Regions from separate parts of the Homo sapiens genome. Here region 1 is linked to region 2. Evidence: fine-mapped expression QTL. A gene starts in region 2. The other region holds a variant in brackets. All regions are shown on one strand. Distances are from middle to middle.

Evidence for each region. PIP is the estimated chance that this variant, and not a neighbour inherited with it, causes the effect.
Region 1: its variant is fine-mapped to the expression of DMAC2 in whole blood (TOPMed, PIP 0.98).

The regions. Positions count from the first base shown.
Region 1 is chr19:41,459,868-41,465,095 of GRCh38, forward strand. The region is part of intron 2 of PCAT19 (prostate cancer associated transcript 19); the gene reads right to left. Among named protein-coding and RNA genes, the nearest start is that of ERICH4, 19 kb to the left of the region's middle. The variant C/T (reference allele first, on the strand shown) is at 3,042.
Region 2 is chr19:41,437,616-41,443,119 of GRCh38, forward strand. DMAC2 (distal membrane arm assembly component 2) reads right to left here and starts at 2,297. Exons shown (of 6, transcript NM_018035.3): 1 at 2,267-2,297; 2 at 603-799. The coding sequence starts at 2,284. RefSeq lists an enhancer at 2,032-2,201.

The DNA.
Region 1 (5,228 bases), 22 kb after region 2:
ATCACAGAAGGGGTTTACACCTTTTCTGATATTGGGAGCAATATTATCCTCTTCTCTTCTGGATATTAAAAACAATATCAAAAGGTCGGTGTACAGCCCCTGTGATATTGGGAGTAATATCATCCTTTTTCCCCATAAATATTAAAATTAATATAATTTTCTTCCCCCTGGCTATTAGGCACAATATCACAAGGGTGTGTACACCCCCTTCGGTATTAAGCGTAATATCATCCTCTCACCCCCTGGTTATTAGAAACAATGTCACGGGGGAGTGTACATCCCCTGCGATATTGGGAGTAATATCATCCCTACCTCCCTGGATATTAGAAACAATATCACAGGGGAGTTGTAAGCTTCCTGCGATATTGGGAGTAATATTATCCTCTCCCCTTCTGGATATTAGGAACAATATCACAGGGAAAGTGTACACCTTCTGTGATATAGGGAGTAATATCATTTTCTCCCCCACTGGATGTTAGAAACAATATCACAGGGAAGGTGTACAGCCCCTGCCATATTAGGAATAATATCATCCTCTCCCCTCATGGATATTAGGAGCAATATCACAGGGGAATGTACACCCCTTGCGATATTGAAAGTAATGTCATCCTCCCCTACTCTGGATATTAGGAACAATATCACAGGGGTTGTGTACACGCCCTGCAATATTGGGAGTAATATTCTCTCCCCCACTGGATATTAAAAACAATATCACAGGGGGTTGTACACCCCCTGCAATTTTGGAAGAAATATTATCTTTTCTCCCCGTGTATATCAGAAACAATATCACAAGGGGGTGTACACACTCTGCGATATCGGGAGTTACACTGTCCTCTTTCCCCATACATATTAGGGACAATATCAATACGTGGGTGTACATCCCCTGTGGTATTGTTCTTAATATCATCCTCTGCCCCCCTATATAATAAAAACAATATCACAGGAAAGGTGTACATTTCCTTTGATATTGAGAGTGATATCATCCTCTTTCCCCTTAGATATTATAAACAATATCACAGGAGGGGTGAACACCCCCTGTGATATAGGGAGTAATATCATCCTCTACCGCCCTGAATATAAAGAGTAATATAACAGAGGGGGTGTACACACTCTGTGATATTGACAGTAATATAATTCTCTGCCCCCCAGATATTAGGAACAATATCAAAAAAGGGGTGTACAACCCCTGTGATATTGGGAGTAACATCCTCTCCTTCCCTGGATATTACAAACAATATCACAGGGGAATGTACACCCTCCCCTGTGTATGGGGTAGTAATATAATTATCTCCCCCACTAGATATTAGAAACAATATCACAGGGAAACAATATCACTGCGATATTGGGAGTAATACTATTTCTCCCAGCCCGAGTATTAGAAACAGTATCACAGGGGGAGTGTACACTCCCTGCAATATTGAGAGTAAAACCATCCTCTCCCCACTTGGATATTAGAAACAATATCACAGGGAAGGTATACGTCCCCTTAGATATTGGGGGTAATAGCATTCTCTTTTTTCCTGGGTATTAGGAGCAATATCACAGGGGTGGTGTACACCCTGCAATACTGGGGGTAATATCATTCTCTTCCCTTTTGGATATTAGGAACAATATCACAGGGAAAGTGTGCACCTTCGGCGACATTAGGAGTAATATCATACTCTTCCCTCCTTGATATTAGCAACAACGCCACAGGTTTACATCCCCTGTGATATTGGGAGTCATATCATCCTCTTTTCCCCTTGATATTAGAAGCAATATCACAAAGGGTGTATTCATTCCCTGCTATACTGGGAAGAATATCAACCTCTTTTTTTCCCCTGGATATTAGGAATAATATCCCAGGGGGAGTGTACCCATTCTGCTATATTGAGAGAAATATCACCCTCATTTCCCCTGGATATTAGAAACAATATAAAAGGGGGGGGTGTACACTTCCTGTGATATTGGGATTGATATCATCCTCTTCCTTTTTGGATATTAGGAACAATATCACAGGGGGGTGAACACTCTTTGTGATATGGAAAGTAATATTATCCTCTCCCCCCCTGGATATTAGGAACAATATCAAAGAGGGCATATACATCCCCTGCGATATTGGGAGTAATATTATCCTCTCCCCCCCTAAATCCTAAATATTAGGAGCAATATTACAGGGTGGAGTTTACAACCCTTGCAATATTGGGAGTAATATCACCCTCTCCTCCCCTGGATATTAGGAACAATATCACAGGGATGTGCACACCCCCTGCAATATGGAGAGTAATATCATTCTCTCCCTTCCTGGATATTAGGAACCATATCACAGGTGGGGTTCACAACCCCTGTGATATTGGGAGTAATATCATCTTCTTTTTTTCTGGATATTAGGAACAATGTCTATTGGGGGAACTAGCCCCCAATATTTCAAAGTAGGTTCTTTTCTATTTTCCTTAAGTGTCACCTGGTCTGAGAAATAAAGTGAAAGAGTACGAAAGAGAAATTTTACAGCTGAGCCTCCGGGGTGACATCACATATCGGCAGGTTCTGTGATGACCACCTGATCTGCAAAACCAGCAAGTTTTTATTAGGGACTTCAAAAGGGGAGGGGGATACGAATAGGGAGTGGGTCACAGAGATCACATGCTTCAAATGGCAATAAAAGATCACAAGGGCAGAAGGGCCTAGCAAGGTCACAAGGCCAGGGAGAAAATGGAATTACTATTGAGGTTCCATGTCCTGCTGTGCACGCATTGTCATTGATAAACATCTTAACAGGAAACGGGGTTCAAGAGCAGAGAACTGGTCTGACTAGAATTCGCCAGGCTGGAATTTCTAATCCTAGCAAGCCTGAGGGCACTGCAGGGGACCAGGGTGTATTTCATCCCTTATCTTCAACCACATAAGGGATACACCCCCAGAGCGGCCGTCCATAGGCCTCCCCTAGGAATGCGTTCCCTTCCCAGTGATATTTCTCCTACTCATTTTCTGCAATAAGAAAAATGTGACTCTGTTCTGCCCAGCCCCACAGGCAGTCAGACCTTATGCTTATCTCCCTTGTT[C/T]GCTGAACATCGCTCTTATCCTGTTCTTTTTCAGGGTGCCCAGATTTCATATTGTTCAAATACACATGTTTTATAAACAATTTGTGGAGTTAATGCAATCATCACAGGGTCCTGAGGCGACATACATCCTCAGCTCACAAAGATGATGAGATTAAGAGATTAAAGTAAAGACAGGCATAGGAAATTATAAAAGTATTGATTGGGGAAGTGATAAATGTCCATGAAATCTTCACAATTTATGTTCAGAGATTGCAGTAAAGGCAGGCATAAGAAATTATAAAAGTATTAATTTGGGGATAATATCCCTGTAATATCCCTGGATATTACAAACTTTACCACAAAGGGGTGTACACCCCCTGAGATATGGGGATAATTACACCTTCCCTCCCCCCTTGATTTTACGATCCATACTACAAGGGGGTGTACACTCCCTGCAATATGGGGAGTAATAGCACCTTTTCCCCTGCTGGATATTACGAACCACAGGGGGGTGTACACCCCCCTTGATATGGGGAGTCATAGTGTAGCAGGAGGAGTCGCGGACAAAACCCCACAGACACCGAGGTAGTGAAGGAAGTGGCTTTTAATCAGCTGGAAGCATCGAAAGACTAGCGTCTCAAAATCCGAGCTTGTTGAGTGCACAATTTCTGTCCTTTTTAAGGGCTCACAACACTAAAGATCTTACATGAAAGGGCCATGATTGATTGAGCAATCTAGTGGGTATGTGACAGGGGCTGCAGGCACCGGTAATCAGAGTGAAACAGCACAGAACAAGAAATTTCACAATGTCCTTCCATACAATGTCTGGAATCTATGGATAACATTGGTTGCTAGGTCATGGGTTGAATTTTAACTATCAGGCTAAGGTCAGGCAGGCCCAGGCCTGGTTTCGGGTCTGGTTTTGGGTCTGGTGCCTGGCGCCGGGCTGCCTGCTTTTGGTTTCACTTCCTTGTTTCTTCTTAAAACAGGTACTGAGTATAAAATAATATAGAACAATATGGGGGGTCTCTTTCTCTCTTCTTTTGATAGCATCCCCTCACCCCGGATATTACGAACCATACCATAGGGGGGTGTACGCCTCCTGCAAAATGGGGAATAATAGCACCCTCTCTTACCCTGGATATTTCGAACCATACCACAGGGAGGTGCACTCCCCCCACGATATGGGGAGTATGGGGGTAACAGTACCCTCAATCCCCTGGATATTACGAACCATACCACAGGGGAGTGTACATTTCCAGCGATATGAGGGGTAACAACACCCTCTCCGTTCCTGGAGAATACAAAACATACCACACAGGGGTGTACACACCCCGCGATATAGGGAGTCATAGCATCCTCTCTCCCCCTGGATATTAGGAACCGTACCGCAGCAGGGTGTACATGCCCCGCACTGTGGGGAGTAATAGCACCCTCTCCCTGCCTGGATATTATGAACCATACCACAGTGGGGTGTACACCCCTTGCAATATGGAAAGTAATAGCACCCTCTTTCCTTCTGGATATTAAGAACCATACCAAAGGGGGGTGTGCACTCCCTGCGATATTGAAAGTAATATTATCCTGTTCCCTTCTGGGTATTAGGAACAATATCACAAGGGAATGCACATGCCCTGCGGTATTTTGAGTAATATCATCCTCTCCCCTTCTGAATGTCAGGATCAATATCACAGGGAGGTGTACACCTTCTGCGATATTGGAAGTAATATCATCCTCTCCTTTTCTGGATATTAGGAACAATATCACAGAAGGTATGAACACCCCTGCTATATATCCAGTAATATCAGCCTCTCCCCTCCTGGATATTAAGGAGAATATCACGGGGGGGGGGGTGTAATATCATCCTCTTCCCTGCTGGATATTAGGAACAACATGACAGGGTGGGTGTACACTTCCTGGATAATGGGATTAATATCATCCTCTTTCTTCCTGGATATTAGGAACACTACCATAGGGGAAGTGTAACCCCCCTGCAATATTGGTAGTAATATCATCCTCTTTTTCCCTGATTATTATGAAGAATATCACAGCGGGGATGTACAATTTCTGCTATATTGAGAGTAATATCATCTTCTCCCCGCCTGAATATTAGAAACAATATCACAGGAAAAATACACACCCTCTGCGACATTGGGTGTAATATCATACTCTTTTCCCATGGATATTAGAAATAATATCATAGGTGGG
Region 2 (5,504 bases):
TTGAACCTGGGAGGTGGAGGTTGCAGTGAGCTTAGATTGCGCCACTACACTCCAGGCTGGGAGACAGAGCAAGACTCCATCTCAGAAAAAAAAAAAAAAGAGTATGGGAACAAAAACCCAGTTAGCTTATTGAGTGATTCAACTATAAGGGATCAGGCTACGAATGGTGAAGGCAGTGAGAACTGGTCAAATCTGAGATATTCTAGTATTTTATTGATGGTCTGGATGTGGAGGGCAGGGAAGCAAAGAGAGGAATTAGGGATGACTCCTTAGAATTTGGCCTGAACAACTGGGTGGGCAGCACCAGTGTTTACTGGGATGGGAAGGCTTGGGAGTGAGCAGATGTTTTTAGGGGAGAAATCAGGGTTTGGCTTTAGCCATGTTAGGTTTGAGATGCCAGTTAGACTCTGAGTGGAGCTGGTGGGTGGCAAACTGCCTATGTGAGCTGGAGTCCTTGAGAAGGGTACAGCCTGGAGATGGAGCTGCAAGAGACATCAAGGCTGGCACTGGAAGCCACAGTGCTGCCTGGGAATGGCAAGGACAGGACCTGGGCTCTGGTGGGCCAGGGTCTCCACAGGGTCTTGCAGACCAGGGATTCTCACCGATTTTTCTCATGCACCTTGTACATCTCCCTTTGGAGCAAGTAATCCCTCAGAGCCTCCACATCGTAGAAATAGTTGGTCAGGAACTGGAGTATTGTCCTTTTCTTCTTCTGATTGCCCTCTGGGGCCACTGCCGCACCCAGGCGATGGATGCCCCTGATACGCCCATTCCACATGGGGGCGACCAGGCGCAGGGACTGGGGAGGGGGAGAGGAAAGGAGCTGAGCCTGGAGCCTCCTGGGAGACACAGAGCTGGATCCCCCAGTTCTTGCTCCATGAACCTCAATCCCTCTGCTTCCCAACTCACCCTAAGTTCTTCCTTCAAAACTTCAAAACTGTCTTTGAGATTCCAAAAATTTCCCCATGTTTTTTCCAAGTTCCTCCTCCCCTTAGTGAACCCTAAATTTTCTCGACTAGCCATATATTGTTGATTTTCCTAAATTCTTCCTCTAACTTTCCCCCAAACCCTTATCACTCAAAACCTGCATTATTTGACCTCTTAATTTTCCACAGATTTGCCCCTTAATTACCCAATTCTTCTGCTGGGGTCTTCCCAAATGACTTCTTTCTTTCCCCAGAATATAATCTTAAAAACTTATCTCCAAACCTCAAGGAGAGGGTGCTCTGAGCAATCCCTAAAACCAACCAAGCTTGTCCAACCCGCCGCCTGCATGCAGCCCAACACAAACATGCAAACTTTCTTAAAACATTAGGAGGATATTTTTGTGATTTTTTTTTTTTTTTTTTTGGCTCATCAGTTATGGTTAGTGTATTTTATGTGTGGCCCAAGACAATTCTTCTTCTTCGAACAGCGTGGCCCAGGGAAGCCAAAAGATTGGACACCCCTGAACCGAGAAGGGTATAAAAAGCATGAGCTTTGAAGAGGAGAGTAAGAAAGTCGAGGGGTGTGGCCAATGGGAAGAAGCCCCCAAACTCTTCAATTTTGCTTTCAAGGTCTCCTCTTAATCTACCCCAATTTCTCTTTGCTTTAACCAAATTCTTTTTTTTTTTCAAATTATCTCGATAATTTTACCCAAACCCTTATTTTCCTCAAAAGTTTAAAGCTGCCAACCTCTTTAATTTTCCCTAAATTCATTCCTTGATTTTAAATCCTCTGAAAGAATATCTCAAATTCTCCTCTTAATTTCACCCAGATCATGCCCTTAGAACCTCCAAATTGACCTCTTGGTTCCCCCACCCATCATGCTTTTGAGTTTTCTGTAAAAATTCGTCAATCTCCCACTAACTTTCCTTACATTCATCCTTCGGTCTTCTAAGACCAAATCCCACATCCTCGAACAATCCCTTCCAAGCTCTCTTATCCTACAGGCCCCACCCTTGCCTGTCCATTAGCTCCTTGTGTCATCCCTCCCTCTGATTGGTTAGTCGCGTCGCTCTTCGGCAGCCACTCCCTCATCCCCATTGGATACTCTCAGCCAAGTCCCTGCCTCCTCTCGCTCGCTAAAGCGTCTCCTCCGCCTGCGACCCTCACAGATCCTTCCTGGCCCCCACTAGCCACAGGTTTGCACTCCCAGTACGGGGCTTGCCAGGCTTAGCCTGCTGCCTCACGGCTTTCTGCTCTCGTGGCCGCCAACAGAGGCCCTGAATGCGGAGGCTGTAGAGCGGACTTCAAATTTGGGGCTCTAGGAACTCCGGTCACTTACCGCCCAGGGAGCCGCCATCTTGCTAAGGTTTCGTAACCGGAAGGGGCCGGTCTTATCCCACGCTCCTGGTTCAGCGCGAACTTATTCTCCTGTGGCCACGCCCCGCGTTTTCTAACCGTCCTCTTAAAGGTGCACGCACTTTTTACTCTTAAAGGGTTTAGGGATTGCTCACAGCGCCCTCTCCCTGAGCTTCAAAACGAGACACAGGTCGGGCTCACGCACCTGTGAACCCAGCACTTTGTGGAGGCCGAGGCGAAAGCATCGCTTGAAGCCAGGAGTTCGAGACCAGCCTGGGCAACATAGGGGAGCCTTTATCTCCACAAAGAAATAGGGCAACCTTATATCCACAAAAAATAAAATGTTAGCCGGGCGTGGTGGTGCACGCCTGTGGTCCCAGCTACTCACGAGGCTGAGGCGGGGGGATCACTTGAGCCGGGGAGGTCGAAGTTGCAGTGAGCTGTGATTGCGCCACTGCACTCCAGCCTGGGTGACAGAGCGAGACGCTGTCTCTTAAAACAAAAAATTGAAAAACAAAACAAACCCCAGGACTCCACAATCTTTCCCTAGGAGAAGATGGGGTGTTCTTCCCGGCAGAGTACCTTTCTTTCCTGACTGCAATTGCAGTCTCCCCAAGCTTTCTTATTCTTCCAGCTTCCACTCACTACCTCCTAAAAACAGGGAATGAGGGGGCTGAAAAGCTGACCACGTCATTTTTAAAAATTAGGGTCAGGTAAGAGAGTGGGTGAAGAGGTTAGATGTCAAGGTTAGAGACTGAGGTGAGATCTCAAGACCAGTTTGGAGTTGAAAGCTAGATCGCAGCATGAAGAGCCATTGTGAAGTCTTGTGGATAGAATTATTCATTCATTAGTTCCAAGAATATTTACTGAGCACCTACCACGTGATGGCAGGCACTGTTCTAGATGCCGAGGTTACCATGGTGAGCAGGACAGACCCAGTCCCTCTCTCAGGAAGTCAACATTCTGGGCTGGGAGAGGATGGATGTGGGAGAGGATGAATAAGAAACAAAGGAATCAGCAAGGCAATTTTGATGAGAAGCAGATAAAAAAAAGTGACTGGGTGTAGGGCCATCAGCAAAGGCCTCTCTGAAGAGGTGACATTGAAGTAGAAGTGAATGATAAGGAAAGAGCCATTCAAAGATCTAGGGGAAAAGCGCTGCAGGGAGAGGTAGCCTCTAGAGCAGAGAGGCCTTGAGGTGGGAACCAGCTTGCAGACAGAGATAGGAGACTGGGTTGAGAGGTGGGCAGGGGCTGACGGTGCAGGCCTGGTAGGGTTTTATTCTATTCACAGTGGGAAGAAGGGAGTGTCAAAATCGGATTTACATTTTGTAAAGATTATTTCTGCCAGGTGGAGAATGTACCTTAGAGCAGCGGTCCCTAACCGTTTTGTTACCAGGGACTGGTTTCGTGGAGGACAATTTTTCCATAGACTGGGGGTCGGGGGTGGGGTGGGGATGGTTTTGGGATGAAACTGTTCCACCTGAGATCATCAGGCATTAGATTCTCATAAGGAGCAGGCAACCTAGATCCCCCGCACGCACAGTTCACAATAGGGTTTGCCTCCTATGAGAATCTAATGCCACTGCTGATGTGACAGGAGGCGGAGCTCAGGCGGTAATGCTCACTTACCCGCTGCTCATCTCTTGCTGTGCGGCCCAGTTCCTAGCAGGCGAGGGGCTGGTACTGGTCCTTGGCCCAGGGACTGGGGACCCTTGCCTTAGAGGGCAAGGGTGGATGCAGGGGACCAGTAAAAGAGGCTGCTGTAGCAGTCTAGGCAAGAGATGAATGGGGATGGGGCAGAGGGAATGGTGAGAAGTGCTCAAATCCTGGGCCTGTTTTGAAGGTTAAGCCAACAGATTGAGAAACTAAAAGCAGACGGGCGTGGCTGTGCACGTGAGGAAACTGGAAGGGCAGCAGGTTTAGGAAGGTGGGTGTGGCAGCTGAATAACGAACCCTCTCCCCATACCTGTGAATCCCTGGGCACTGTGACTATGTTACTTTCTATGGTAAAAGGGACTTGGGGCTGGGCGCGTTGGCTCACGCCTGTAATCCCAGCACTTTGGGAGGCCGAGGTGGGCAGATCACCTGAGGTCAGGGGTTTGAGACCAGCCTGGCTAACATGGTGAAACCCCGTCTCCACTAAACATACAAAAATTCGCCAGGTGTGGTGGCGTGCACCTGTAACCCCAGCTGTTCAGGAGGCTGAGGCAGGGGAATCGCTTGAACCCGGGAGGCGGAGGTTGCAGTGAGCCAAGATTGCACCACTGCAGTCCAGCCTGGATGACAGAGCGAGACTCTGTCTCAAAAAACAAAATACATATATATATATATTGTTCATTTGTTTATTTTAAGATGGAGTCTTGCTCTGTCGCCAGGCTGGAATGCAGTGGCGTGATCTTGGCTTACTGCAACCTCCACCTCCTGGGTTCACACCATTCTCCTGCCTCAGCCTCCCGAGTAGCTGGGACTACAGGCACGCGGCAGCATGCCCGGCTAATTTTTTGTGTTTTACTAGAGACGGGGTTTCACCATGTGGCCAGGATGGTCTTGATCTCCTGACCTCGTGATCTACCATTATATATATGTATATATATGCACCTTGGGTCTGAAGGAAGGGTCCAAGGCCGAGAGAGGCCTGCAGTGCTTCCCAGACTTTTCCACAGCAGAAGCCCTCACCCTCAACAGGGATAATATACCCATAGGCAAGTCCAGGGTCAGCAGAATTGGCTGCTTGGCCCTAGGCCAGCAGCCTGGACACAGGCACTCCAGCTAAGGGATTGCTGTCTTGGTGCCCCTGGGAGCCATTCCTGCCCCCAAAGGCACACTGGTGGGAAAGCCCTAGGATGACCCGTGCCAAGAGGACAAGCAAGGACCAAGCTATGGGCAAGCCAGAGGTCAAATGGAGGCTGAGGAGAGGCTGGAGAAGTGGTGGTGGGGGGCAGGTGGAAGGACAGAGGGTGCCAGGCATCTACAGACACTGAGCGCCCCTGAGGGGTCAGGCCTGAGACAGGCAGGGAAGGGTGGAGTTAGACCTCTGCAAGAGGCTATGTTTGAACCCTGTGAGCAGAGTTGAGGTTAGACTTCAGAAGGAAAAAGAAAAGCACAAGGCCAGCTGATTCTCTCTGAAGAGTGGACTTTGGGATACCTTTCCCAGGAACCCCCATCCCACTCCCTCTGCCCTTTACTCTCCACCACGCACACAGCTCCCCAGGGGACCAGGC